Linked DNA regions of Homo sapiens. The protein of the gene in region 1 binds, or shares a complex with, the protein of each later gene. Each region holds a gene or a part of one and is shown in the gene's direction. Other genes may lie near its edges.

Evidence for each region.
Region 2: LSM8 (region 1) and SNRNP40 share a complex: the UniProt entries of both Homo sapiens proteins name them as parts of the U4/U6-U5 tri-snRNP complex.
Region 3: LSM8 (region 1) and LSM4 share a complex: the UniProt entries of both Homo sapiens proteins name them as parts of the precatalytic spliceosome.
Region 4: LSM8 (region 1) and TXNL4A share a complex: the UniProt entries of both Homo sapiens proteins name them as parts of the precatalytic spliceosome.

What each region holds. Positions count from the first base shown.
Region 1 is NC_000007.14:118,179,647-118,187,172, forward strand, and holds the start of LSM8 (LSM8 homolog, U6 small nuclear RNA associated), read left to right. Parts: upstream 1-4,517; 5' UTR 4,518-4,577; coding exon 4,578-4,608; intron 4,609-6,007; coding exon 6,008-6,048; intron 6,049-7,526. UniProt on the Homo sapiens protein: Plays a role in pre-mRNA splicing as component of the U4/U6-U5 tri-snRNP complex that is involved in spliceosome assembly, and as component of the precatalytic spliceosome (spliceosome B complex).
Region 2 is NC_000001.11:31,293,783-31,301,003, reverse strand, and holds the start of SNRNP40 (U5 small nuclear ribonucleoprotein 40 kDa protein), read left to right. Parts: upstream 1-4,215; 5' UTR 4,216-4,252; coding exon 4,253-4,393; intron 4,394-7,221. Other genes in the region: ZCCHC17 (zinc finger CCHC domain-containing protein 17), read right to left, coding at 3,791-3,922. UniProt on the Homo sapiens protein: Required for pre-mRNA splicing as component of the activated spliceosome. Component of the U5 small nuclear ribonucleoprotein (snRNP) complex and the U4/U6-U5 tri-snRNP complex, building blocks of the spliceosome.
Region 3 is NC_000019.10:18,313,057-18,320,080, reverse strand, and holds part of LSM4 (U6 snRNA-associated Sm-like protein LSm4), read left to right. Parts: exon of another isoform or gene 1-564; intron 565-2,400; exon of another isoform or gene 2,401-4,015; coding exon 4,016-4,057; exon of another isoform or gene 4,058-4,412; intron 4,413-7,024. UniProt on the Homo sapiens protein: Plays a role in pre-mRNA splicing as component of the U4/U6-U5 tri-snRNP complex that is involved in spliceosome assembly, and as component of the precatalytic spliceosome (spliceosome B complex).
Region 4 is NC_000018.10:79,971,548-79,978,571, reverse strand, and holds part of TXNL4A (thioredoxin-like protein 4A), read left to right. Parts: intron 1-870; coding exon 871-974; intron 975-1,784; exon of another isoform or gene 1,785-1,854; intron 1,855-4,715; coding exon 4,716-4,887; 3' UTR 4,888-7,024. UniProt on the Homo sapiens protein: Plays a role in pre-mRNA splicing as component of the U5 snRNP and U4/U6-U5 tri-snRNP complexes that are involved in spliceosome assembly, and as component of the precatalytic spliceosome (spliceosome B complex).

The sequences.
Region 1 (7,526 bases):
AAGCATACGTAAGTATTTTATTAATATATATTGCCCCTTATGAGGTGAAACAGAGGGCCTCCTGAGATATACCGGTTCTCCAGATCTTTAAGGTAAAGTATATGCCCGTGTAAGTATCACCAGTATGTTCCGTGGCCTTGCCATTGGCTAGTGAGCAAAGTGTATCATGTTTACACAGTTCTACAGATTGGCCCCATCTACTTTGTTAACAAGCAGTCTTGCCTTTTCCTGTGTCTCCCTAATCTTGCTAACCTCTGATTCACCAACCACCATTACTATGCCACCTAGGATTTGCTGTCTGCCTCATTTCTTTTCTTTTCCATTTTTAGATAGGGTTTCACTCTATTGCTCAAGCTGGAGGGCAGTAGCTCCAACATGGCTCTCTGCAGCCTCAACCTCCCTGGCTCAAGCTATCCTCCTGCCTCAGCCTCCCAAGTAGCTGGCACTACATGTGCATGACACCATGCTCAGCTAATTTTTTTTTTTTTTGGTGGAGATGGGGTTTTGCCATTTTGCCCAGGCTAGCCTCAAACTCCTGGACTCAAGCAATCTTCCTACCTCAGGCTCCCATAGTGCTGAAATTACACGTGAGCCACTGGGTCTGGCCTCATCACCTTTCTTAAGCTCTGTCTTCAAATCACTTTTTTTCTGCCTCTCCATTCTTTTATTACTTATTAACCTCTGTGAGCACAGAATATGCCTCTCCATTCTTACTGCTACAAATCAGAAACGCATATCTGAACTCCTGCTGGCCTTTTTATCTTCAGTTTTTACCTCCGCTAAATATTAATGTCAGGACCAAGCGTGATGATTCACGCCTGTAATCCCAGCACTTTGGGAGGCCGACGTGGGCGGATCACCTGAGGTTGGGATTTTGAGACCAGCCTGGCCAACATGGTGAAACCCCGTCTCTACTAAAAATACAAAAATTAGCCAAACGTGGTGGTGCATGTCTGTAATCCCAGCTACTCGGGAGTCTGAGGCAGGAGAATCGCTTGAACCCGGGAGGCAGAGGTTGCAGTGAGCCTAGATCGCACCACTGCACTCCAGCCTGGGTAACAAAACGAGACTCCATCTCAAAAAAAAAAAAAAAAAATTAATGTCAGGTCATTTTCCTAAAGTGTATTTGCACTTCTTCTCAAGCACTGATTTAAGTCTTACCTGTTTTGTAAAACCTCCCAAGATTTGAACTCATATCCATCTTTCCCTTCCTTAAGCACTTAAAATGTGCACAGCTGAATCTATCCAATCATAAAAAATGGCCATGAACAAAACACCGTATTGGAATAAGCTTTGGGACTTTAAAAAAAAAAAAAAGGTTATTTATGGTATAGTCTATGTCCTTGAATAACAATGAGTACTCATTATATATCAGGCTCTTCAAGTATTACTTTTAGTTCCTCAACAATTAGATGTAGTTTTGTGTAGTTTTCCTCATTTTACAGATGGGGAAACAGGCACAGAAGGTTAAGTATGCTCAAAGTCAAACAAATAAAAATTCAGGCAGTTCATGAGTCAGTGTTCTTAATAATGATCCTAAACTGCTTCTCAATTAACAAATCACTTATATTTGATCTTTTCCATCCCTTAAGTAATGGAGTTAAATCTACCTGTCTTTATTACCCTAAATGAAAAAAGTAAGTAAAGCACTTTGTAATTTATAGTGTTAAATGAAGACTATCAATTACCTTTATTTGTAATTTGGAATATTCATTTTTTTCATGCAATAATTATTTCATTTTTATAAGTAAAGGTCTGTAACTATTCAGGAATTTCCTTGTAAGTAGAGACGCATGATCTACTTATGTCCTTTTCTGCCTAGGAGAACTCTAGTTAGATCTATTCAATATATATTACTGATTGGTTAACACCTTTGCAACTTGTAGGGAAGTAAAGCATAAACGCGTAAAAGGAAATAAAAGTTCTCATCACATAAGGTTAAAAATATTATTTTATTTTAAAAAACTGCTATTGTGATAGTTTTCCATAAACTATTCAGAGAAGCGCAAATTCAGTTTCCTAGGATTCTACTAGAAGTCTGATCCTTTAGGTTAAGGTTTTCTGCTCAAGATTTAGATTCAGAAGTAATGGAATAAAATTATCTATTACAAGCATACTTTGGTTGATACTTTATCAGTGATATAATGTCATTTAAATGAGCATTACTTTGAGAGGTTTCGACTTAAGGGGCAAGTTTCACTGTTAACTCTTAATTTTTTAGTAGTCAGATGTTTATGTGTATCAGTTTTCCCTTATTGGAGCTTTAATGTAATTCTTCTTTATGAGATGCTAAGGTTTCTACATTCATGTACTCCCAAGGGTACATGGCTAATATAGATAAATCACATATGTAATGTTTGCATCCAGATGTAATTCATTTTGTCTTAGTAAACCGACTTTTATTTATCCATAGGTTTTCTCGCTACATCTGTGATCCTTACAGACTACAGAAAATATAGCGATTTTAAGACACATGTAAAAAAGTTTCCAGCCAAAGAGATTTTGTGATGCTCCATAAACACTGTTCATCTGTTATTTATCTGGCATATTAATTTAATGACAACTACACAGGGCAATAGACTTACAAAAGCACACTCTAAGGGATGAAAAGCCATAGGGAGTATTCATTTTTTTTTTTTTTTTTTGAGATGGAGTATCGCTCTGTCGCCCAGGCTGGAATGCAGTGGCACAATCTTCGCTCACCGCAAACTTCACCTCCCAGGTTCTAGTGGTTCTCCTGCCTCTGCCTCCCTGGTATATGGGACTACAGGTGCCCGCCACCATGCTGGCTAATCTTTGTATTTTAGTAGAGAGGGGGTTTCACCACGTTGGCCAGGATGGTGTTGATCTCTTGACCTTGTGATCCACCCGCTTTGGCCTCCCAAAGTGCTGGGATTACAGATGTTAGCAACTGCACCCGGCCTCATTTTTATAAGATCACACAGAGGTTTTTTTGTTTGTTTGTTTTTGAAATGGAGTTTCGCTTTTGTCGCCCAGGCTGGAGTGGAATGGCGTGATCTCAGCTCACTGTAACCTCCGCCTCCCGGGTTGAAGCAATTCTCCTGCCTCACCCTCCAGAGTAGCTGGGGTTACAGGAACCCACCAACATGCCCAGCAATTTCTTTTTTTAACAAAACTCCTAACACCTCGTTAATCATTAATTAGTCTTTGGGTTTTGGTTCAACACCTAACATTTGCAAATCACACAATTATCTTTGTTCTTTCATTAGCGGAAGACACTTTCATTTGTTACCCTGAGAATATGAGACATTCACAATCTAATTCCTGACTACATTTGATTTCAAACAGATAGGAATAAGTTCCAGAATATAAAATATTAACTATTTGGGAGTATCTTGTGGGTATGCTCTAATTAAGAAATGCTTCCTTTTCCGAGGAAAACTGCTGACATTGCAAGAGTTATTACAAAGCCACAAATCTTAAGAAAATACATGTTTAACTGAAATTATAAAGATATTTTGCAAAAAAGGGAAATCGCTCCTGCTGGTGTTTTGTGTATAAATCTCTTTCTAACTTCAAGCTCTCTCAAGTTAGGGCAACAGTAAATGAAGTGGGAACAGTATCGCATTGGGAAATATCTGAAATGATACCTATGGGACTATCTAACGAAACTGAGGCCCAGAAGAATTGAAGTGACCTGTGCAATGACACCAATTTGTTAGCAGAGCCAAGATTAGAACCAAGTTTGGTGCCTTCCTGCATCCTTCCTGCATCGGTCCTTTCTCGGTGCTGCAGCAGCCTTTTACTTACTAATTTCACCCTGAAGAAAGGTAGACCATCCTGGCGTGGCAGAAGCGTGGACATTCGTTTTCTAAGGGATGGTCACACACCTTTGCCTATTTGCATTTAGTTTCTTTAAAAAGTAAAAACACCTCCATTTTGGAACACTTTTAGAGACAAAAGCAGAACATACGAAAGTGTATTTCACTGCTGAGTTCTTAAGAGGCGTACACCGTGTGGTTATAACGTGCGCAACTCTGTCCCGGGCAACTGAACTTATTTTTAGCGTTATTTTCGGCTTCTGCTGCAGAAAACTAGGGATTCAACTACCCGCACCTACGTTTCACACAACAGCACTCGTCTCTCTCCTTCACTCCTAATAAAAACACCTTACTTCGTTTATTCCTGCCTGCTCTACCTCGTCTCAACATTTTCTCTTGTTAACTTCCACCACACTGCCTTTTACTCGGATTGGAAACCCACTCTCCCCCAACTTCTGTCTCATACCCCCAACTTCTGTCTCATACCCCCAACTTCAGGAAGCGTCTTCCTTTTTTCCGCCTCTCGTTCGCTTTTGTCTTACGAGGCTTCCGGAACACGGCCCAGAATTACAGAGAAAACACACTGCGCACGCGCACTCTCTCGTCACCGCTGTGCGGCTTCTGTTTGGTTGGCCAGTTCGTCCCAATTTCCGACTCACAGGGCTGCGGAGCAGCAACTCTCACGATATTTGCTGCGACCCGCAGGCGCTATCCGCTGCCGGGTTCTGGCGCGCCCTTTCAGTTCTGCTTGCTGTCGGCACCGCTGCGTTACCCGGAACCGCCGGGCCGAACAGCATGACGTCCGCTTTGGAGAACTACATCAACCGTATCCTCAAGCTGGCCGCCGCGGGCGTGAGCCGGGGTCGCGGAGAGGCCGCGGTCGGGGATCGGTGGGAGGTTGGGAGGCCTGGCCTCGGCGGGATCCTGGGGGCGGGCGAGGAGATGAGGGCCCCGGAACGACCCAGAGTTCGCCGGCGGCGCCTCGAGCCTTCCCGCTGCTGCGGGCCCAGGGGTCCTTTCCATTTTGCCTGCAAAACCCAAATAAAAACCCAGTGTGATTATTCCGAACTTTTCTGTCTTAAAAAAAATGTACGCTCTTGATTCTTACTTACTATTTCCCTATGGCATAAGTGTTAAAGTTTGTGAATAAGATGAACAGTCGTCCTGGCGGCGACAACAGTTTTGCAAATCTTTGTACTTGTTTTATTCACATAATTTGCTCGTTCGAGGATAGCAAAAAGTTTAACGATGGTTCACAGACTGTTTCTGTCCCTTTACCACTTGAAGTCCCAACTTGTTGGTAGAATGAAAAAAAATGGTTGCTGTTGTAATGGATTATAGTGAGGAGCAAGTAACAACCCCATGGGAAGTCTTAAAATAGACTTTACAAGTGTTACCGTTTTAAAGTCTTAGGACAAAAACACTACGTTAAGCTCAGGTACAAACTGGGTGACAAAAATTAAATACCGAATGCTTTTAATGATGCGTTATTGGTACCCTGTGACACTGCTTATATAGTTTCTTTACTTTTGAATTACAGAAGCCTGTCCTGGAAGACAGTTTTTTAACATGCTGGAAAATCGTCCAACATCGATTAATTTAGTACTCATCCACTTTTCATTTTAGAAATAAACAGGCCTAAGAAACGAAATATCCTGCCTGAAATAATAGATTGGTAACCTTCCTAGTAGAAAAGTGTCAAAAATCCAGGATATTTTGAGATAAGATACACCGATCACATACAGAAAGAGGTTTTCTTTTTCTATTTTTTCCCTTTTTTAATCATGTAATTATCACAAAGACAAAAACAGAAGCTTTTTTTAAGTTTTTTTTTTTTTTTCTTTTTTTGAGTCGAGGGTCTCACTCTGTTGCCCAGGCTGGAGTGCAGTGGCTTGATCATGGCTCAATGCAACCTTGAACTCCTGAGCCCAAGCAATCCTCCTGCCTCTGCCTCTGCCTCCTGAGTAGCTGGGACTATAGGTCACCAGGCCAGGGTAATAGAGATGGGGGTATCGCTGTGTTGCCCAAGCTGGTCTCACCTCAAGTGATCCTCCTGCCTTGGCGTCTAAGAAACTTTTAACGTTTTTATGTAGTGAACTTAGTGGCTGTGTTGAATACTTATACCTAGTTGTCATATTTATTCTAAAAATTCAAATCATTCCCTTGCCAGAGTCTGTTTTCAATTTGCATTCCCTAAGAAACACTTTCTTTGATTCAGTTATCAGGAACTGTTGCCGTTATTACATCAGATGGGAGAATGATTGTGGTAAGTCTTTGGAATTTTCATTCTCTGCTTTCCTGTAGGTTTATTGGTTGCAAGTTTTATGTGAAACCTCTAATCTCTAATGCCTAGACAGCACATTACACCCGTAGTGCAATTTTATTATAATTCAGCTCTTTATCACTTTGCTGTCAATCCATGTTTTCCTCACTAATAAACATTGTGTGTTACCTACAAGGTTTCTCGGAGCTAGAATAATAGATTCTGCCCTCAGAGAGCTCCTAGTCTGTAGACCTTTATTAAACTTACTTTTCTTCTTCCATTTTTATTTCCTTCCCCATTCAGCACCACATGAATCAGAATTTTTTTGAAATTTTGCATATGCTTAGTAACTTTTTAATGATTTAGATACTATTAATATCTAGATAACATTTAAGGCTTGTATACAATCTTAATATTCTTTGTTTTTAGGTTGTGTGACATGTCTTCTGTAGGACACATTATGATGATTGACTCTCTATATATACACATATATATGTAAAATTGGCTTGTTCCTTGAAGTTGTTTCTCCCTTGCTAATTTATGTCATATAACTAAGATAAAACGTTCCTATAGTGATACTTGTATTTGGAATTTGATCTGAGGAATTCATCTCAAGATTTTTGGGTACTTGGTTATTTCTTCACTTACAATTCATACTTTGAATGCTTTCAAAAGAATTTTAAGGCTACTGAACTTTCTCTATTTTCTAACCTTACCTAGTTTCTTTAAATAATTTGATCCCTTATTTTTCCATTCTTCAGTTTTGCTTTTGTTCATTTTCTTTTTAAGCCTTGTGATTTTTTTTCACTGGGTCCTTAGTGACTATTATTAGTCAAAGTTCTAGCTTTGTCCTTTACTAAATTTATATCATGTGCCAGGTGCATATATGTTACATTATTTAATGTACAGTAAAAACTTATGAAGAATAAGTACCCCTGTATTCTAGATTAGGAAACAAGTTCAGAGAAGGTGACTCACTTTCTCAGAGTCACAAGGGTAGCAAGTGACAGAACCAAACTGGGATTTAAATTTGGTTTGACATCAAAGCCAAGGCCAGTTGCCTGGCTTCTTTCTTAAGGAAGCAATGATGTTTGCTTAGGCACCTCACATTGTATTTTTTCAAATATGGACAGTTTGACATATTTTAATTTCAACACTTCAGGAAGCCTATTGCTGTTAATAGATATTTGCATTTTTTTTTAATTTGGTGAAAACCTTAAGTTTAAATTTTCTTATTTTTGTTGACAGGGTAGATAATAAACTGAGAAATTATTTTTAATTTTAAAGAAGAATGAAAGTGATATAAAAAGCATCTTAAGTTCTAAAGTTCAGTAGTTCTGTATTTCTTTGACACATAATTTATTTGATGGGATAATGTGTAAAATGAAGTCAAGAAGTTATGAATGGATGTTTATGATAACAACCATTTGCTAACTAGTTCAATAAATACTCCATATTTTGTTTCTCTTCCAAGTTACAGA
Region 2 (7,221 bases), on another chromosome or scaffold:
AATCTTAGGCCATTCCAAGGGCCACACACACTTGCCACTAAACCACCCTTTTTTTTCTTTTTTTTTTTTTGAGACAGAGTTTTGTTCTTGTCACCCAGGCTAGAGTGCAATGGCGCGATCTTAGCTCACTGCAACCTCCTCCCAGGTTCAAGCGATTCTCCTGCCTCAGCCTCCCGAGTAGCTGGGATTACAGGCACACACCACCATGCCCAGCTGATTTTTATATTTTTAGTAGAGACAGGGTTTCACCATATTGGTCAGGATGGTCTCGAACTCCTGACCTCAGGTGATCCACCTGCCTCGGCCTCCCAAAGTGCTGGGATTATAGGAGTGAGCCACAGCACCCGGCCTAAACCACCCTTTTCAACACAGTCCCTGTTCTCAAAGACCTCCTAATCTGATAGGGATATCAGATATCATCATTCCAACAACACTCTAAACTCCCTTTAACTCTGTCTTTATATTTAACTATCTGGCAGTATGTCTAACCTAGCCCGGGACAGTTGCAGACAACAGAACCCACTTAAGCAGAAAGGGATGTATTGCAATAACAGACTTTGGCGGAACTTCCAGGAACAACACCTAACCCACAAAATAACACCAATTACACTGCAATGTGATAAGTGCTAAAGCAGAAGCTTGGGGGCCAGGCATGGTGGCTTATGCCTATAATCGTAGCACTTTGGGAGACCAAGGCAGCAAGATCACTTGAGGCCAGGAGTTTGAGACCAGCCTGGACAACATGGCAAGACCTTATCTCTATAAAAAATACAACAATTAGCCAGGCATGGTGGCACATACCTGTTATCCCACCTACTGGAGAGGCTGAGGTGGGAGGATCACTGGAGCCTGGGAGGTCGAGGCTACAGTGAGCCATAATCATGCCACTGCAATCGGCCTGGGCAACAGAGTAAGACTGTCTCAAAACAAACAAACAAAAGTAGTAGCTAGGAAGAGAAAGAGGGTCTGGGGGAAGTAGAGAAGTTAAACAGATAACTGAATAAGCCTTTTAGGATAAACAGAAATCCTCTAGCAGAGAATACTGTTCTTTGACCTCATTAGAACCCTGATTTATTGGCCTCTATTTTCTTCCAATCTATCAGCCCTCCCCTTTTTCTTCAGTTTTCTTCCAATCCAGCTTAGATTCCATAGCCCATCATTCCAACAACACCCTAAACTCCCTTTAACTCTGTCTTTATATTTAACTCTCTGGCAGTACCTCTAACCTGGTCAGGGACAGTTGCAGACAACAGAACCCACTTAAGCAGTAAGGGATGTATTGCAATAAAAGACTTTGGCAGAACTTCCAGGAACAACACCTAACCCACAAAATAATACCACCTTTGCCACAATCCAGGAAAGTTATGGCTATCACTGCAGCAAGCCACCAAACCAGGGAGCTATTGACTGGAGAAATTTACTGCCATGACTGGCAGCAAAACTGGATGACTCACACCCTCCTTCTTTCCACATTTAACTCAGTTCCAAATTCAATTTTCACCTTAGGTGCAAGGGAGTCAAGAAAATGGTTTTTAGTTTTCCAGATTTTTCAGGAAGAGAAGACATATTAGAGGTTAGAATGTGTCTTGAGCAAGCGATGTCCTTGCCATACCCAGAAAGGTTTTCTCCATGCATGCACTAAACCGCTGGATATGCTGGAAAAAAATTTTTTTTTTCCTTGCATCCTACATTTCTCTAGTAACCTCATTCTCCCACACTCCACAGTGACTTTCAAATCTTCTACAATATTCTCAAATTTCTCAAAACTGGATCCTCAACTGGATCCTGGATAATCCCTTATCCCCATCGGTTAGCACATCCTCTCCTCCTCTTTACAATCAGATCTATGAAAAATACTGTGTAGGTTCACTACCTACATTTTCTTGTCCAAATCCTTGCCTCATATCTGGCTTTTGGCCCAATCACACCAACAAAATAACTCTTGCTAAGGTTACTGTGACCTCCATGATGATAAAAGCCAAAATATGTTTTTCAATCTTCATGTTATTTAAATTCTAGAAATTTCTATCACAAATCATTCTTTTGCTTCTGAGACATTCTTCCAGTCCTCCTTCCTTTCTTCTGTATCTCCTGTAGGTTCACCTGTTCTTCACCATTAAATGTTGGAACTAGTCAAGGTTCTGACTTAGCTGACCTTACCCACACCTATGGCTCAATTCATGTATATACAAATTATGCCCAATTTTATATTCCCAACACAAATCTCTCTTCTGAGCACAAAGCTGTATTTCAAACTGCCTCTTGGATGTCATGAATGACCCCACACAATCAATCAATCAATCAATAAAAACTGATCTCAGCTGGGAGCAGTGGCTCAGGCCTGTAATCCCAGAATTTTGGGAGGCTGAGGCAGGTGGATCACTTGAGGCCAGGAGTTGGAGACCAGCCTGGCCAATATGGTGGAACCCCATCTCCACCAAAAATACAAAAATTGGCCGGGCACAGTGGAGGCGCCTGTAATCCCAGCTACTGGGGAGGCTAAGGCAGGAGAATTGCTTGAACCTGGGAGGTGGAGGTTGCAGTGAGCCAAGGTTGCACCACCACACTCCAGCCTGGGCGACAGAGCAAGAACCTGTCTCAAAAAAAAAAAAAAAACAAAAAAAAACTGGTCTCTAATCATCTTCTAGTGTTCCCTATCCAGCTTGAGGGATTCCGTGATAGTGAGTGAATGGTACCACCATCTATTCAACTACATAAGCCAGAAACCTAGGAGTTACCTTTGATTCCTCTCTTCACTCCCTAAAATCAACCCATCACCAAGTCCCACCCATTTTACCTCCTATATACCTCTAGAATCTGTCCAATTCTCTGCAGTTCCACCCATATCTCAGTCCTCACTGACATCTCTGACCAGGATTACTGCATATCCCAAGTGGTCCACATACATCGACTAGGGCTTCCCCAACCCCCGTCTGTTCACACCACTGAGCCTGAGGGATCAAGTCCCCTCCTCCACCACACCCCACTGGGGGAAGACGGCTCAGTGGTATCTCATCCGTTTTAAAATAAAAGCTACAAATTCCTGCAAGGTCTGACCGCTATCACGTACAGCTTCATCTTGTACCATACTCCCTTCATTCTCTTTGTACCAGCCACACTGGCTCTTTGTGCTTTTAGTCATTTTCCTCCCAAGTGCCTCAGGGCTCTGAACAAGTAGTTCTCTATGGAAGGTTCTGCCTTCACTTCTTCACCTAATTAATTACAACACTTCCTGCAGCTACCAGCGCAGGCATCTTTTCCTCTGAAAAACCTTCCTGCTTATTTCAGGCACTCATAGCATCAGGCAGCAGTAGGAGGCATTTCCATGTATTAGTGAGGTCATTGTTTAACGTTTTCCCCACCAGAGTTAAACGCCCTGAGAGTAGGGACCGTGCCCGGTTCACAACATACCCCCAACGCGCTGCTAAATGAATATCAGCAGGACGACTGAGGCAATGACCACGTTCATGGGCATGAGTCTCAAATTTCTCAACAAGACTGTGCTCTGGAGAAGGAGTCGGACATTTCCTTCATCACTGTCTCTCTCAGGGGGGCATACAGTAGGCCCTGATCAAAAACTGCAAAATCAGTGGCAGAAACAAGTCAGCCTCCTCGGCCAAATGGGGCACCGGAGGAGGCTGGGACGCAGGCCTTTCTCCCTGGGAATGCCCGGCACAGGACTGGCCACGATGGGCGCTCTTGAAGAAGGGAGCCGCAGGGGCTGGGTCTTGCCGCCAGAGACCCCAAGGCTCCGCTCCTGCCCCGAAAGGGAGCCCAGGCTACTACTTACCACAGCTGGGGACTCGGGGCCCGCCTCCCACCCCTTGCTGTCAGCACCCTCAGCTGAGAAGGGCAGGTTCAGACTGCACAACCGAGGCGTCGCCTCCAGACTCAGGCAGCCACCCACCCCGTTCTTCCTCATACGTACTAGGCGTCAGCTCCAGGTCCCCGAGTCGCTGCGCTGAACTAAACGCCGACCCCAGTCAGCCAGCGCGTTTCCACCCACAAGACCCAGCGCGCCTAGGGCGGTCGCCAGCTCCGTCCACCAATCCTGGTATCGCACTCTCATGACGTCAGAAAGATATGCCCAATAACAAGAGACTATCCGAGGGCGGTGCAAATGGAAATATTGAAAGCCGATTGGTTCTTCCAAGCTGGAAGTTGTGGAGGAAGGACTAATTTGGAACCAATTGCGTGGCGCCTGAGAGCGGCAGCGCGGTCAGTGGCGGCGCTGAAGAGACCGGTTGCCGCCATGATAGAACAGCAGAAGCGTAAGGGCCCAGAGTTGCCGCTGGTTCCAGTCAAGCGGCAGCGGCATGAGTTGCTGTTGGGAGCGGGGTCTGGCCCAGGAGCCGGGCAGCAGCAGGCGACGCCGGGAGCCTTGCTGCAAGCGGTAAGTGAAGAAGCAGGCGGCCTTTGGCCCTCAGCTCATCTTCCTCCCCTCAGAGCGCTGTATCTGGTGATCCCTGACCCTTTCCCGCATTGCGGGGGCAGAACGAGAGTTTCTACGCAGAGTTAAAGCACATAAACACTGTAAAAGCTCCCCATAGCCTGCGAATGCTGCGTACGTGTTCCCCCGTTTGGCGCCCGTTTTCAGCCTCTCGACTGCCCTGAGATAGCATTAGAATTAGAGTTGAGGACCTTGGGCTCAAAACCCTGACCCGGGTTTAAGCATCCTGACTCTAACATGGATCTGGCATAGAACAAAAATTCCGAAGAGTGTGTAGAATGAATGAATGAGGGAGGGAAGAAAAAAGGGAAATGATTTGTGTTGGCTCGTTTTGGGACTTTGGGCAAGTTGCTTTTCCCTTTATTTCTCTGCACTAGTATTATTAACAACTAAATAGCAGCTAACATTCATTGACTCTTGTACTAAAGTGTTTCGTATATGAAATTTCCATTGATCTTGGTAGCAGCCTGTTAGGAACGTTATTAACCCATTTTGCAGATGGAAAAACAGACTTACCAAGTACGTGATAGAAGCAGATTTCGAACTGAGAAACCATGCTCCTAACTACATTTTTTGTAAGATAGAAATAGTGATCACACTTCTAATGTCCTGTTTAGGCTCAGACGAGGAAATACGAGTGTCCTCACATCTCCTCAATAAATCCTGCTGGCACCGTCCTCAAAATAGGTCTAGAATTGCTACTTCTACCATCTCCATCATTGCCTCATGGCCTAAGCCATTATTATCTCATCTGGCATTTTTGTAGTGGGACCCTAACTGGTCTTCCACTTTCTACCTTTGTATCAGCACCTGTTACCAAGCCAATAACCAAAGGAATCCTTCTAAACATCAGATCACATTACACTCTGCAGAAAACTTTCTGGTGGCTTTGTACTTCATCCAGAGTAAAAACCAAAATTCTTGTAATTATTTGCCCTCTTTCCCTTTACCTCTCTGACCAATTTCTTATTGCTCACCTGGCTTCAGTTACTCTCTCTTCCAAGCCTCTGCTTCAGGACCTTTGCATTTGCTGTCCTCTCTGTGGGATTGCTCTTCACAAATGTTTACATGGTTTACTATTCAGCTCCTGCGAATATTTGCCCAAATGTAATTTTTTCAGTGAGGATTTTCCTGACCACCCTATTTTAAATTGCAGTACCACATACTGTGGAACCCACATTGCTTCTCTCTCTCTCTTTTTTTGTTTTTTTGTTTTTAGACAATCTCTCTGTGTTGACCACTGGCTCAGTACAGCCTCCACCACCTGGGCTCAAGTGATCCTCCTGCCTCAGCCTCCTGAGTAGCTGGGACCACAGACACACACCACCACATCTAACTAATTGTATTTTTTTGTAGAGACAGGATTTCACTCCTGAGCTCAAGCAATCCGCACACCTTGGCCTCCCAAAATGCTGAGATTACAGGCATGAGCCACCATCCCCATCCCTTCTTTTGCTCTATAGCACATGACACCACATATATAGTTTGCTTGTTTTCTCTCACCTTCCCTTCTCCCTTCCCCCTTTCCCACTGGAACAGCGAGCTCCATTGTTTATTTTGTTCATTGCTGTTTGCCCAGTGCCTAGCACGTAACTTCTTTTTTTTTTTTTTAAGATGGAATTTTGCTCTTGTCACCCAGGCTGGAGTGGAGTGGCGCAATCTCGGTGCACCGCAACCTCCGCCACCCGGGTTCAAGCGATTCTCCTGCCTCAGCCTCCTGAGTGGCTGGAATTACAGGCGCCCGCCACCATGCCTGGCTAATTTTTGTATATTTTTAGTAGAGACGGAGTTTCACCATGTTGGTCAGGCTGGTCTCAAACTTTTGACCTCAAGTGATCCGCCCACCTCAGCCTCCCAAAGTGCTGGGATTACAGGTGTGAGCCACCGCGCCCAGCCTGCACATAACATTTTTTAAAACTAAATGAATCTGGCCGGGCTTGGTGGTGGGTGCCTGTAATCCCAGCCACTCGGGAGGCTGATGCAGGAGAATCGCTTGAACCCAGGAGGCGGAGTTTGCGATGAGACGAGATCACGCCATTGTACTCCAGCCTGGGCAACAGAGCAAGACTCCTTCCCCAAAAAATAAATAAATAAATAAATAAATATGAAAATGCTGGGAAGTACTGAAGAGATTTGGGGATTATGGGTAGTATACTTCTCCCATTTGACAAGTGAGCATATCAGCCCATGTTTAGATGAATTGCCCAAGTGTCATCTTGGTGTCCAAGACCATAATCAAAACTACTTCACCCATGCTGAGGATCCGTTTGCTATGAAAAAATAAGAAATAAAAATAGGCCAGGTGCAGTGGCTCATGCCTATAATCCCAGCACTCTGGGAGGCCAAGGCAGGCAGATCACATGAGGCCAGGAGTTTGAGACCAGCCTGGCCAACATGGTGAAACCCCATCTCTACTAAAAATACAAAAATTAGCCGGGCGTGGTTGTGCATGCCTGTAATCTTGGCTGCTCGGGAGGCTGAGGCACCAGATCCCTTGAACCCAGAAAGCATAGGTTGCAGTGAGCCGAGATCACACCACTGCACTCCAGCCTGGGTGACAGAGCAAAACTCTGTCTCAAAACACACAAAAAAAATTAAAAATAAAACAAAACTATTTCACCCAGTACTCCATACCAAGCAGAGTTGTTGGGAAAGTCAGTTCCATCATTTGTTAAATGAGCCAGGCCAAATGTGGTGGCTCATTCCTATAATCTTAGTGCTTTGGGAGGCCAAGGAGGGAGGCCAGGATTTTGAGACCAGCCTAGGCAACG
Region 3 (7,024 bases), on another chromosome or scaffold:
CCTGGGAGTCAGGCAGCTCCCTGTCCCGCAGCCACTCCTTCCCTTACCTGTGGGGTGGGGCGAGTGTTCTGCCTTCCCTGCATGCCTCCCTGGGTAGTGTGTGCATTTTTCTTGTGTATTTATTCAGCAAATATTTACCGAGTCCCTCTCATGTGCCTGGCCTTGTGCTTGGCCCTGGACAAAGTCCACACCCACTTTGAGTGTTCCAGTCTAGCGAGGGACACAGGTAATAAACAAGGTAATTAAAGACTGGCTGCATCCTATGATGGAAACAAACACCCATGAGGCAGAGGGTGGCCATTAAAAGGGCCTGGCCAAAGGAGGTGACGTTTCAGCAGCCTGGGGAAGGTCACCCCAGGCAGAGGCAATAGCAGAAGCAAAGGTCAGGTGGCAGGAATGGGTGTGGCGGCCAGTGTGGCAGAGCCTGTCTGCCTTGACTCTATAGCGGGCCTGAGGAGTGTTGTGAGAGTGGGTCTGCACCAACCCTATTTGGGTTTTTTGTTGTTGTTGTTGTTGTTTTTGAGATGAAGTGTCACTGTCACCCAGGCTGGAGTGCAGTGGCACAATCTCAGCTCACTGCAGCCTCTGCCTCCTGGGTTCAAGCGATTCTTCTGCCTCAGCCTCCCAAGTAGCTGGGACTACAGGTGTGCGCCACCATGCTTGGCTAATTTTTGTATTTTTAGTAGAGATGGGGTTTCACCATATTGGCCAGGCTGGTCTCGAACTCCTGACCTCGTGATCCGCCCACCTTGGCCTCCCAAAGTGCTGGGATTACAGGCATGAGCCACGGCGCCTAGCCAGTCTTTCTTTTGTTTTGTTTTTTTGTTTTTTGTTTTTTTTTGAAACAGTCTCGCTCTGTTGCCCAGGCTGGAGTGCAGTGGCGCAATCTTGGCTCACTGCAACCTCTGCCTCCTGGTTTCAAGCGATTCTCCTGCCTCAGCCTCCTGAGTAGCTGGGATTACAGTTGCCTACCACCACGCCCAGCTAATTTTTGTATTTTAGTAGAGGTGGGGTTTTGCCATGTTGGCCAGGCTGGTCTGGAACTCCTGACCTCAGGTGATCTGCCCGCCTCAGCCTCCCAAAGTGCCGAGATTACAGGCGAGAGCCTCCGTGGCCATCCCACCAGCTCTCTTTGTTTCTCAGATGTTCTTTCTGCTGCTTTTTGGATGGGACTGCAAGTGACAGGCAAGGAGGCCGTGGGTCCTCCCAGGCTGTGCTATTGGTCGCTGAGACCAGGTGGTGGCCCAAGAGGGTCTGTCACTGGCATGGAAGGTGTGTCTACAAGCTACCTGCCTCTGGGCAGCTTTGCCAGGGCCTTGCTGGATGTCCCTGGGCAGGTCACTTCTGCTGTGGGCGCTGGCGCCTCCTCTGCAGAATGAGAGGTGGGCCTTTAAGGGCTAGCCTGACCTCTGCGCCTTCCCTGGTGATCCAGGAGGAGGTCCAAGGTCCCGTTCCTGTTACGGACTAGAGAAAGAAAACAGGCTTGCTGAGGAAAACCCACGGCTTCTTCACAGTAAAGGGCGACCTGGGCATGAGACCCGTGTGCCAGTCTGTGGCTCCTGTGTTTTCTCTGTGGCTGGTGGCACCCAGTCAGATGCACACCCAGCCGCCCGCAGCCCTCCTCCCCTGCCTCTCCTAGCAGCTGCCCCGGGGCCACATGGCCCTTTCTTCCCCCTTATCTGGCTCTTCCAGGAAGCCGGTGCAGGAAGTGGGCTTGGGCCTGGCTTCCTGCTGGCACCAACCTCCCCTGGGCAGCTCTTCTCAGGAAGGGGCTGTGGGATGTAGGATTCCCTCCCCAACCCCTTCCTTTCATTGGGGAGCCACCCGGCCAGGGTTGAGGGCCATTTCCGGCCTCCACAGGGAGAGGCCTTCAAGTTCACACCACCTGGAAAAGCAGCCACACTGTGGATTAGGGTGGTGGCCAGGGCAGGACTCCCAGCAAAGGCATCTGGGGTCAGGGCCACCTGGAATTCCAGTCACCAGGACAGGGCTAGGTGAAGCCTGTGTCCCATGAGGCACTGTCTTGTCAGGGCCCCTTGGTGCTGGGGCCTTCCTCATGGCAGTACTAGAACGGGCATGTTATAGGACCCCGCACCCAGGCACAGCTCTGCGTTACCCGAGGCAGCTCCCAGCGTACGGGTTGAGTTTTCTGTTTCCAAAATGAAAGTGTTGATTTCCCCCCCAGTAATAGAAATACTACATATTTGACATAATAAAGAAATTCAGTAATGATGGAAAAAAACATCTTGAAACCAGGCGTGGTGGTGCATACCTATAATTCCAGCTACTTGGGAGCTTGAGATGGGAGGATTCCCTGAGGCCAAGAGTTCAAAACCAGCTTGGGCAATATAGTAAAAGCCTGTCACCATCAAAAAAAAAAATCTTGAAAGTTCACCTTACCTGGTGACTTCCTGTCTTTGAAAACCCAGTTCAGGGCCGGGTGCGGTGGCTCACGCCTGTAATCCCAGCACTTTGAGAGGCCAAGGCAGGCGGATCACGGGGTCAGGAGATCGAGACCATCCTGGCTAACACGGTGAAACCCTGTCTCTACTAAAAATACAAAAATAAAAATAAAAAAAAATTAGCCGGGCATGGTGGTGGGCGCCTGTAGTCCCAGCTACTCGGGAGGCTGAGGCAGGAGAATGGCATGAACCCGGGAGGCGGAGCTTGTAGTAAGCCGAGATTGCACCACTACACTCCAGCCTGGGCGACAGAGCGAGACTCCGTCTCAAAAAAAAAAAAAAAGAAAACCCAGTTCAGGCGGGGGGTGATGGCTCAATGCTGTTACCCCAGCCCTTTGGGAGGACCAGGCAAGCAGATCATTTGAGGTCAGGAGTTCAAGACCAGCCTGGCCAACATGGAGAAACCCCATCTCTACTAAAAGTACAAAAATTAGCTGGGCATGGTGGTGCACCCCTAATAATCCCAGCTATTTGGGAGGCTGAGGCGGGAGGATCACTTGAACCCGGGAGGTGGAAGTTGCAGTGAGCCAAGATCACACCACTGCACTCCAGCCTGGGTGACAGGCTTGCTTCCCAGGCTCAAGCAATCCTCCTGCCTCAGCACCCAAGTAGCTGGGACTACAGATGCGCACCACCGTGCCCAGCAAAGTTTTGTATTTTTAGAGCAAGGCTTCATCTAAAAAAATAAAAATAAAACCAGCTCAGATGTGGCCTTCTCTGATGGGATTGACCCCTGCATTGGGGCCTGGCAGTGTCAGTCTTGGGCCAGTTGGGGCTGCCCTGCAAGGCATGGTCTTGTGCTTGCTTCAGACAGACAGGACCAGGCCAGCTCTGTCTCCTCCTAGCGCCATAGTACTGGGCAAGTTCCTCGGGTTTCCAAGCTGTAGTGTCCTCAACTCCATACTCAGAGTAACCTCATCAACATGGATGCATCTCAGAGATACCAGTTTGAGCTTAAAATACAAGCATTAGGGCAGGCACGGTGGCTCATGCCTGTAATCCCAGCACTTTGGGAAGCCGAGGCGGGTGGATCACCTGAGGTCTGGAGTTTGCGACTAGCCTGGCCAACATGGTGAAACCCCGCCTTTATTAAAAATACAAAAATTTGCTGGGTGTGGTGACGCATGCCTGTTGTCCCCAGCTGCTTGGGAGGCTGAGGCAAGCTGCTTGTGAGGCTTGAACACGGGAGGTGGAGGTTGCAGTGAGCCATGATCATGCCACTGCACTCCAGCCTGGGTGACAGAGCGAGACTCCGTCTCAAAAAAAAAAAAAAAAAAAAAATTGACCAGAGTGTTCAGCACCAAGAGCAGGTGGTGGCCACCTACGGGAGTAGGGAGGGTGTGTGAGGCTTTTCTTCCTAATCTGAGAGGCAGGTGTGTGTTCCAGGGCTGGGCAGAGTGAGGAAATGGCATTTCCAGTGGGGGGTGATTGACACGCACTCCTGTGCCCCCTCAACCGCACCGCACCATCTATGAGTCATGGGTGGGACTCAAGACCAGAGCTCCCAGGCGCTGGTCAAACAGACAAATCATGTGGCTTTATTTGCCTTTCAGCTTCCCTTGTCACTGCTGAAGACGGCTCAGAATCACCCCATGGTGAGTACTCAGTGGTCTGGGAAAGCCTGTTTGAGAGGGGGCCAGCCTCAGCACAGGGGCGGTGGCTGAGCAGACGGCTTCCTGGCCTGCCTGTCCACCAGCATGGCAGTTTGCTCTCTTCTCCCTCCCCAGGAGTGTCCACACTCCTGTCATTTCTGCTGCTTGTAAGAGTAATACATACATACTTACTAAAAATTTAATGGGCCAGTTGCAGTGGCTCGCGCCTGTAATCCCAGCACTTTGGGAGGCCAAGACAGGAGGATCGCTTGAGCTCAGGAGTTCGAGATCAGCCTGGGCAAGAAGAAAAACTTAAAATTAGCCAGATGAGGTGGTGTGTGCCTATAGTCACAGCTACTCAGGAGACTGAGGCAAGAGGATCGACTGATCCCAGGAGTTTGAGGCTGCAGTGAGCTATGATCATACCACTGCGCTCCAGTCTGAGCGACAGAGTGAAACCTTGTCTCTAGAAAAAGAAAATTAATGAGGTGGAAGGATCACTTGAGCCCAGGAGTTCAAATCCAACCTGGGCAATATAGCAAGACCCTGTCACTTAAAAAAATAAAAAGAACTTCAGGTTGGGCATGGTGGCTCAGGCCTATAATTCCAGCACTTTGGGAGGCTGAGGCTAGAGGATGGCTTCAGCCCAGGAGTTCAGAGACCAGTCTAGGCAACATGGAGAAACCACGTCTCTCCATAAAATATAAAAATTAGCTGGGTGTAGTGGCGTGCACCTGTAGTTCCAGTTAGTTGGGAGCCTAAGGCAGGAGGATCACCTGAGCCTGAGGCGTTTGAGGTTGCAGGTCGCTGGGTGACAGTGAAACCCTGTCTCCAAAAAATGATAATATTGGCCGGGCGTGGTGGCTCTATGCCTGTAATCCCAGCACTTTGGGAGGCCGAGGCGGGCAGATCAGGAGATCGAGACCATCCTGGCTAACACGGTGAAACCCCGTCTCTACTAAAAATACAAAAAAATTAGCCGGGCGTGATGGCGGGCACCTGCAGTCCCAGCTACTTGGAAGGCAGAGGCAGGAGAATGGCGTGAACCCGGGAGGCGGAGCTTGCAGTGAGCTGAGATCGCGCCACTGCACTCCAGCCTGGGTGACAGAGCGAGACTCCATCTCAAAAAAAAAAGGATAATATTACATACTAACACTTCAGTTAAAGTGCACAATTTAGTGGCATTTGGTGCAGTCACAGGTTGTGTAACCACCACCTTTATCTAGGCCGGAACATTTCCGTCTCCACAAAAGGAAAGCCCATTTCCATCAGCAGTCACTTCCCAGCCCCAGTCCCTGATGAGCATGAGGCAGCTGCCGTCTCTGTGGGGTTGCCTATTCCGGATATTTCCCATGCATGCGAACGGAGACCATGAGGCCTTTCGAGCCTGGTGGTTGTCACTCAGCAACGTGTTTTTGAGGTTCATCCACCCTGTGGCCTGTGTCAGTGCCTCATTCCTTATAGCCAGACGATACTCCGTGGAGCGGATACTTACCACTTTTTTTTTTTTGAGAGGGAGTCTAGCTCTGTCGCCCAGCCTGGAGTGATCTGGGCTCACTGCAAGCTCCGCCTCCTGGTTTCACGCCATTTTCCTGCCTCAGCCTCCTGAGGAGCTGGGACTACAGGTACACGCCACCACGCCTGGCTAATTTTTTTTGTATTTTTTTTTTAGTAGAGACGGGGTTTCACTGTGTTAGCCAGGATGGTCTCGATCTCATGACCTCGTGATCCGCCCGCCTCGGCCTCCCAAAGTGCTGGGATTACAGGCTCACGCCCGGCCTACATTTTGTTTATGTGTTTGTCTGCTGATAGGCATCTGGGCTCTTTCCCCTTTTTGGCTATTGCGAACAGTGTCACTGTGAACATTCACGCACACATTTTTGTATGGTTGCCTGTGTTCATTTCTCTTGGGCAGATGCCTAAGTTGAGTCATTTAAAAATCTCAGCCCTGGTGGGAGGCCAAGGCGGGTGGATCACCTGAGGTCAGGAGTTCAAGACCAGCCTGGCCAACATGGTGAAATCCCCGTCTCTACTAAAAAATTAGCTGGGCGTGATGGCAGGCGCCTGTAATCCCAGCTACTTGGGAGGTTGAGGCAGGAGAATCACTTGAACCCGGGAGGCAGAAGTTGCAGTGAGCTGAGATCACACCATTGCACTCCAGTCTGAGCAACAACAGAGAAACTTCCATCTCAAAAGAAAATCTCAGGCTTGGACTGAGTGTGGTGGCTAATGCCTATAATCCCAGCACCCCGGGAGGCCAAGACAGGAGGATCACTTGAGCCCAGGAGTTTGGGACCAGTCTGGGCAACAGTGAGACCCCACTTCTACAAAAGGAAAAGAAATTAACCACATGTGGTAGTGTGCGCTTATAGTCTCAGCTACTAGGGAAACTGAGGTGGGAGGATGGCTTGAGCCCAGGAGGTTGAGGCTGTAGTGAGCCATGATCACGATACTGCACTCCAGCCTGGGCAACAGAGCAAGACCCTGTCTCATAAAAGACACCAAAAAATATCAGTCTTTTCCTAACAGCAGCATATCCTCAGAATGATCTGCTACTTATCTTTGTTCTCAAAACATACCAAAATAGATGAGTAATTATTGCAGTAAAAAACAGCATTTGTGGAACACTGAAGCCCAAATATCTGGTGTTGTGGGGGTGCCTGCCAGGACCAGCCCAGCTGTGCCCACCTGGCCCCCAGCCACCCTGGATCAGTGGCCACCATCACCATTGTCTCACTTATTCCTTTAAACATTTCTGTGTTTCTTAGTTTTTTGTTTTTTTAAGACCAAGTGGCACTCTGTTGCTCAGGCTGGAGTGCAGTGGTGCGATCTCAGCTCACTGCAACCTCCCCCTATCTCAACTCACTGCAACCTCCGCCTCCTGGGTTCAAACAGTTCTCCTGCCTCAGGCTCCCGAGTAGCTGGGACTACAGGCATGCACCACCATGCCCAGCTAATTTTTATGATTTT
Region 4 (7,024 bases), on another chromosome or scaffold:
CAGTGAGCCAAGATCTTGCCACTGCACTCCAGCCTGGGCAGCAGAACCAGATCCTGTCTCTGGAAAAAAGATAGCAGCAGTCACCCCTAGGTGTTGGGATTGGAGGTGATCTTATTTTCTTTTTATTTTTCTGACTTTTCTAAATCTCTGATAAACTTGCAATTAAAGAAAAAATAACAGAAAATGTGTTATATGCAGTATTATTGGAGGTACTATTAATATTTGCAAGTGTTCAGACCTAATTGCGGGGAAATGATGGCAGGATTCTACAGGTATATTTTAGAGCAGTTGTGAGATGCATGTAACTATTTGTAAAGGTTCATACAGATGATTACTAGATCAGCATAAATAATATGTCTGTGGACGTTTTCTGCAGGACTTTGATAACTTGTTACCTGAGTGAAATTTAATTCCTGGGCGATTCTGGGAGATGGTAAAGTGAGGCGGAAGGAGCCAGCGGCCAATTCCTGAACTATTCTGGGAAACGGTGGCGTGAGGCGGAAGGAGCCGGTGGCCAAGGTCCCAGTAGTGTCACATGATCTTCCCGCGTGTTTGCTGCACTGGGAAAAAATGTTGAAGAATTAGTTTGAAAATTGCCCCGTTGGCCAGGAGTGATGGCTCACTCCTATAATCCCAGCACTTTGGGAGGCTGAGGTGGGAGGATAGCTTGAGCCTGGGAGGTCGAGGCTGCAGTGAGCTGATTGCACCATTGCACTCTAGGATGACAGAGTGAGACCCTGTCTCAAAAAAACAAAACAAAAATTGCCCTGATCCACACAAATTCTTGGTTTTGTTTTTATAAATGTGCTTCTATAAAATGAAAGCCAAAGTGTTCTGTTATTTCAGTTTTTTTTTTTAATCTCCTTTTAGGTTAAAAATTTTGCAGTTATTTATCTTGTGGATATTACAGAAGTGCCTGACTTCAACAAAATGTATGAGTTATACGATCCATGTACTGTCATGTTTTTCTTCAGGTACGTTATCTTAAAGTTGTTACTGAAATTGAATATTGTCAGTTTGGAAGCTTAATGTAATCAAGATCTCTTTAGATTATTTTATTTTGAAGGAAGTTGGTTGTACAGTCATGTCCCAAAATCGTTTGTATCACCAGGCAATCAGTGTGAATCTTTGAAATAATTTTCAAAGTAACAATTCTAGTTTTAGCATTTACTCAGTAACAAATTACCCTTTTGAAATAACTTTGCGGGGAAACCTAGGTGAAGTGTAATTCAATGAAAGATGTTGTTACTGACATTTTAGATACCTGGAACTATAATCTGTTCATCAAAAATGTTGTAAAATCACAAATTTAGGCCGGGCACAGTGGCTCAAAGCGCCTGTAATCCCAGCACTTTGGGAGGCCGAGGTGGGTGGATCACAAGGTCAGGAGTTCGAGACCAGCTGGGCTAAGATGGTGAAACCGAGTCTCTACTAAAAATACAAAATTAGCCGGGCGTGGTGGTGCATACCTGTAATCCCAGCTACTGGGAGGCTGAGGCAGGAGAATCACTTGTACCCAGGAGGTGGAGGTTGCAGTTAGCCGAGATCATGCCATTGCACTCCAGCCTAGGCAACAAGAGCAAAACTCCGTCTCAAAAAAAAAAATCAAAAACCTAATTTATTAAATATGTTATCATCAACTTCGGTGTCCTTTTTTATATCCAAGAGGAACACCTGAACTACTTTGCTTATAAATACAAGATTATTTTATCAGCTCAAAAATTTCATTATGGAAATTTAATGGGGAAAGAAATCACCATCTGATGCTGTTTTTACTTGTTTAGTTACCATAGAGGTTGGTGAATTAGCTACATGAGCATTAGACCATTCTCCAAAAGTGGAGCCTCCTACTCGGTAAGGAAGGTCAGGTGGGTTGTATAGGGTATGCGTTAGTTTTGTATTCTTTGTAACAAATTAGCACGCATTGAGCAGCTTAAATCACCCCGCTTTTCTGAGCTCACAGTTCTGTAAGTCAGACATCCAGGCAGGGCCCGCTGGATTCCTGCTCAGGGTCTCACAAGGTCTGAACCATGGGCTGGGTGCTTATCTGGAGTGTTTGAGGGGCTTGTTTGGGTTGTGGGCCGAGTCTGGCTCTTCGTGGTGGTGGGTCTGAGATCTGCTTCCTTGCTGCTGTTACCTGAGGCCACTCTGCTGCCAGAGACCCAGTTACCCTCAAAGCCAGCACTGGCATGCCGGCACATTGAGAACTTTTCACACAGGTTCTCTGACCTGAAAAGTTCTGCCTGAGAAAATGCTCTGGTTTTAGAGGACTGTGATAAGATTAGACTTGCCCAAATAATCCAGGATAGTGACCTTGTTTTATTTATTTATTGAGATGGAGTCTCACTCTCACCCAGGGTGGAGTGCAGTGGCACCATCACAGCAAGCTTGAACTCCTGGCTTCGAGCCATCCTCCCGCCTCAGGCTGCCAAAGCGTGAGGCACTGCCGTGGTTCTGGGCGTCGGGATACGCTCCCCTGGACACGCCCTTGGCTTCCTAGGTGCCTCCTGTTAGGTTGAGAAGATCTGTGAGGTGCACCCTGCATTTCTTGTGAACTTTTCATCTTTCCTAGGTTTCAGCAAAGGTTGCGTGGCTGACCCTCATCCTTTTCTCTACTGTGTGTTCAGCAGCCATTTCTGAATTTCAGCCCCTTTGGCCATCCGGAGAGGCTAAAGAATTTATTCCTTTTGTTAACAGTTCTTACACTAATTTGCCTCTTTCCTCTCTTGAAGGCAGCACCTCCGAGACTTTGCTTGGAAGTTTCCGCAGCTAAATATCCCGAGTGTGTTGCTTTTGAGCTCTGACTTCCTATAACTGCGGACCCCGTGTCCCTGTTCCTCGGCCACTCTGTAACGGGGGTCCCCTTTTCTCCGTTTCCCAGTAACACACTCCTCACTTCCTTCCAAGCCCACACCAGGTGTTCCTGAAGTCCATATTTCTGTTAACAGCCTGTTCGAGGCAATAGAGGCCTTTTCTATTTTGCCCCTCAGAATTCTTCAGGTGAGAACAGGGAGGGCCGTCTTAGGTCTCTGCCCCCCACAGCGTGCAGTGGAGGCCAGCCTGGGGCTGGAGATGCTGTGAGGGGCAAGGAGGCTGCAGGCAACAGCCTTGGGTGGCGGGAGCAGCCTACTTAGTGTAGTTTGATATTTTTAGGACTGATGCTGTACTCAGAAAAGGAGATGAAACTTCCTTCTGCTGTTTCTGTGATTTAGAATTTTAAGACAAACGGTACTTTAGTTAACTTATGCACCAAACATATATCTTGAGCCCCCACCAGGTTTGTGGTCTAGTGGTGGAGCCTAATGTCAGATAAGACAGGATTCCCACTCTCATAGGACGTTGTCTGATAGAAACAGCTGAGTAAATTAGCAGGGGGTTCTGAAGAAGTGAAAGGAGGCAGATGTTTATGAGATATAAATACCGAAGAAGTACACCCAGGTCAGATAGGGCTGCAGGGAGGGTGCTACGGGCAGCCCCCAGTCATTGTAGAAGGAGCTTGGTGCATGCTGCATGTAGGGCCTGCCTGCAGCATGGAGAATGAGAGGGCGGCCAGAGGTGGGCTCCAGACCCTGATCAGATTTGCCTCTCCTGAACCAGAGACTTCACGGGGAATACTTTCTACGGAATAGTAGGTGGAAGCCAAATGCATGATCTTGTGGAAGTGAACGTTAAAAAACAGTCTTTAGGTGGGGTATGCCTGCAGCCCAGCCACTCTGCAGGCCGGGGTGGGACTGGAGCTAGGGGTTTGAGTCCGGCCTTAGCAACATAGCTCGCATCTCTAAGAAAAATAATCAGGCCGGCACAGTGGCTCACGTTTGTAATCCCAGCACTTTGGGAGGCCGAGGTGGGAGGATCACTTGAGGCCATGAGTTTGAGACCAGCCTGGCCAACATGGGGACACCCCATCTTTACAAAAAACTAGAAATTTATCTGGGTGTGGTGGCTCGTGCCTGTGGTCCCAGTTACTTAGAGGGCTGAGGTGGGAGGATCATTTGGGCCAGGAGGTTGATTTTGCCACTATGCCCTAGCCTAGATGACAGTGAGACCCCATCTCAAAAAGAAACTTCAACAAACCAGGATAAATTTATGCCAGTACAACAAAGGGTTAATATCCTTATCTTGTAAAGTGCACATGAGTATTCATGAGGAAAAGAACTAGTCTCTTGAAAGATAAGTAAAGAATTATCTACTTCCCTAACCATAAACATGCAAAATGTCATCTTCATTTCATAGTTGAAGGGCTTTTAATACAATTTATGTCATTGCTCATAAGAGCACTGTGAAAAACTTACACATTGCTTTTATCAGGTAAATTAGTACAAATTAGATGGGGGTCTCATTTTGTTATCCATGTTGATCTCGGACTCCGGGCCTCAAGTGATCCTCCTGCCTCAGCCTCCCATAGAGTTGGGATTACAGGCATGAGCCACTGCGCCTGCCCTCCTTTGACCTTTTAATTTCCCCTTAGAATAACTGTCCTAAATAAATACAGAAAAATGCAGGAAAGAGCATGGTGGACAATGCATTGCATCTTTAAAAACACATTTAGCTGCTTCCTGTATTCTCCTGCATCATGGCATACACTCTCGATTTTATGCGTTCTTCAGTGATGTTAACAAGAGCTTGTCACAGTGGGAAAAATACGGCATTGTTTTCAAGGAATTCTTTTTTAAAGAGACTTCTATGAGAATGGATGCCCTTGTTTCTCGTTGCAGGAACAAGCACATCATGATTGACTTGGGGACTGGCAACAACAACAAGATTAACTGGGCCATGGAGGACAAGCAGGAGATGGTGGACATCATCGAGACGGTGTACCGCGGGGCCCGCAAAGGCCGCGGCCTGGTGGTGTCCCCCAAGGACTACTCCACCAAGTACCGCTACTGAGGCGCCCTCAGTCTGCGCGGATAAATGTCGTGGAGCCCTTTTTGTATGGAAACGTTTTAAGCTATTTAAAGCCTTTGGAAAATACAGGAAGCTCCAGGGCTGGAGCACCTCTGAGATGGAATTGATAACATGGTCTTAACTCACCGAAATAAACAAGCACGTGGTGAGAGGAGCAGGCCTACTTGTTTGTTCTCAGGAAACTTAATGAATAGATTACTGATTTTCCTAGTCAAAGTTAATTCTTACCCTTGGAGTAAAACGAAGGTGTTTATCCTGTGAGCCTGTGCGTTTTGCATACTGGGTTGGTTTGCTGGGGCTGCGGTGACAGCATATGCCGCGAGCTGGGCTTTAACAGAGATGTGTGCTCTCACAGCTTTGCAGGCGGGGGTCTGAGATCAGGGTGTCGCGGGTGGGGGGTCACTGCTGAGGCCGTGAGGGGAATCTGCTCAGGCCTGTCCCTGGCTTCTGGGGGCTGCTGGTGGTATTTTCAGTTCCTTGGTGTGTGGATACTTCGCCCCATCTCTGCCTTCACCTGTGTCCTCCCTGTGTGGGTGCTGGTGTCCAAAATTTCCCCTTTTCGTAGTGACACCAGCTGTGTTGGATTGGGGCCCACCCTGCTCCAGCATGGCCTAATCTTAACTAATTACATTTGCAAGGATCTTATGTCCACAAAAGTCACAGTCTGAGGTGCTGGGGGTTAGGACTTCAATATATAAATTTTGCGGTTACACAATTCAATCCATGACAGAATCCAAAGGTTTACTCTGGTTATAAAAACAGTACAATAAAATATTGTTTATAGCCTTCCCTGTAAGGAATAGGAGAGCTATTTTTTATTCTTCCCAAGATTGTATTTGATGTAAACATATTTTCTGTAGAAGCCATGGCCCTTCAGTTCATATAGTTAGAAAATTTCCTTATTGGCCAGGCACGGTGGCTCACACCTGTAATCCCAGCACTTTGGGAGGCCGAGGTGGGCAGATCACGAAGTCAGGTGTTCGAGACCAGCCTGGCCAACATGGTGAAATCCCGTCTCTACTAAAAATACAAAAATTAGCTGGGCATGGTGGCGCGTGCCTGTAATCCCAGCTACTTGGAAGGCTGAGGCAGGAGAATTGCTTGAACCCGGGAGGTGGAGGTTTCAGTGAGCCGAGATCACACCACTGCACTCCAGCCTGGGCAACAGAGCAAGACTCCGTCTCAAAAAAAGAAAAGAAAATGTCCTTATTACAGTCTCAGGTTTCTCTTGCCCTCTGTCATCCTAGCAGTGTGGATGGTTGGTTGGGATCTTCGTGTCCCGTCTCAGCACACTCGAGCTCTGAAGTGAAAGTGAGGAAGGGCAGGGATGGGGGCACTTGAGCACACCGTGGGCCCTCTGACCTCAGACCCAGGCTCTGCCCCACCAAGTGACCTTGGGCAGGGTACCTTCTCTGAGCTTTGTTTCCTCCTTGGTAAAGGCGGATAATAGTGTCTGCCCTGCACACAGATGTGGACGCAGAAGCACGTGGTGCCTGCCGGGCACAGGAGTGGTGCACAGGGCTCGCTGCTGTCGGGAGATTGATTGCTGTTGTGGAAACGGGAGGGTACTTACAGAATGAAGCACATTTTTTACATACAGTACAAATGAGTGTGTGCTTTTTAAATGGATTTAAAATTCAAATGCAAATCTGCAGTTTAATCTCCCAAGTGCTGATTTTTCTATGTATAAAGTAGGAGAGTGCAACAGCGTATCGGAATGAGGGGCTAGGGAGAACGTGTATGTGACCTCGAGTACCTGGCATGTAACAGACACTCAGTATTACACTCCTGCTATTTCTCCAGAGCAGGTGAAACAGACGGCCAGGAAGCACACGAAGAGACACTCAGCATCACTGCTTGTTAAGGAAGGTGCAAATCAAAACCACAGTGAGACGCCACTTCACACCTACAAGTTCGGCTAGATACAAAAAGATCGCAACAAGCGTTTGCAAGGATGTGGAGAAATTGGAGCCCTCACACACTGCTGGTGGCAAAGTGGTAACACAGGCAGGCAGGTCGTCAAAAAGTTAAACATGGGCCGGGTGCAGGTGTCTCAAGCCTGTAATCCCAGCACTTTGGAAGGCTGAGACAGGCAGATTGCTTGAGCCCAGGAGTTCAC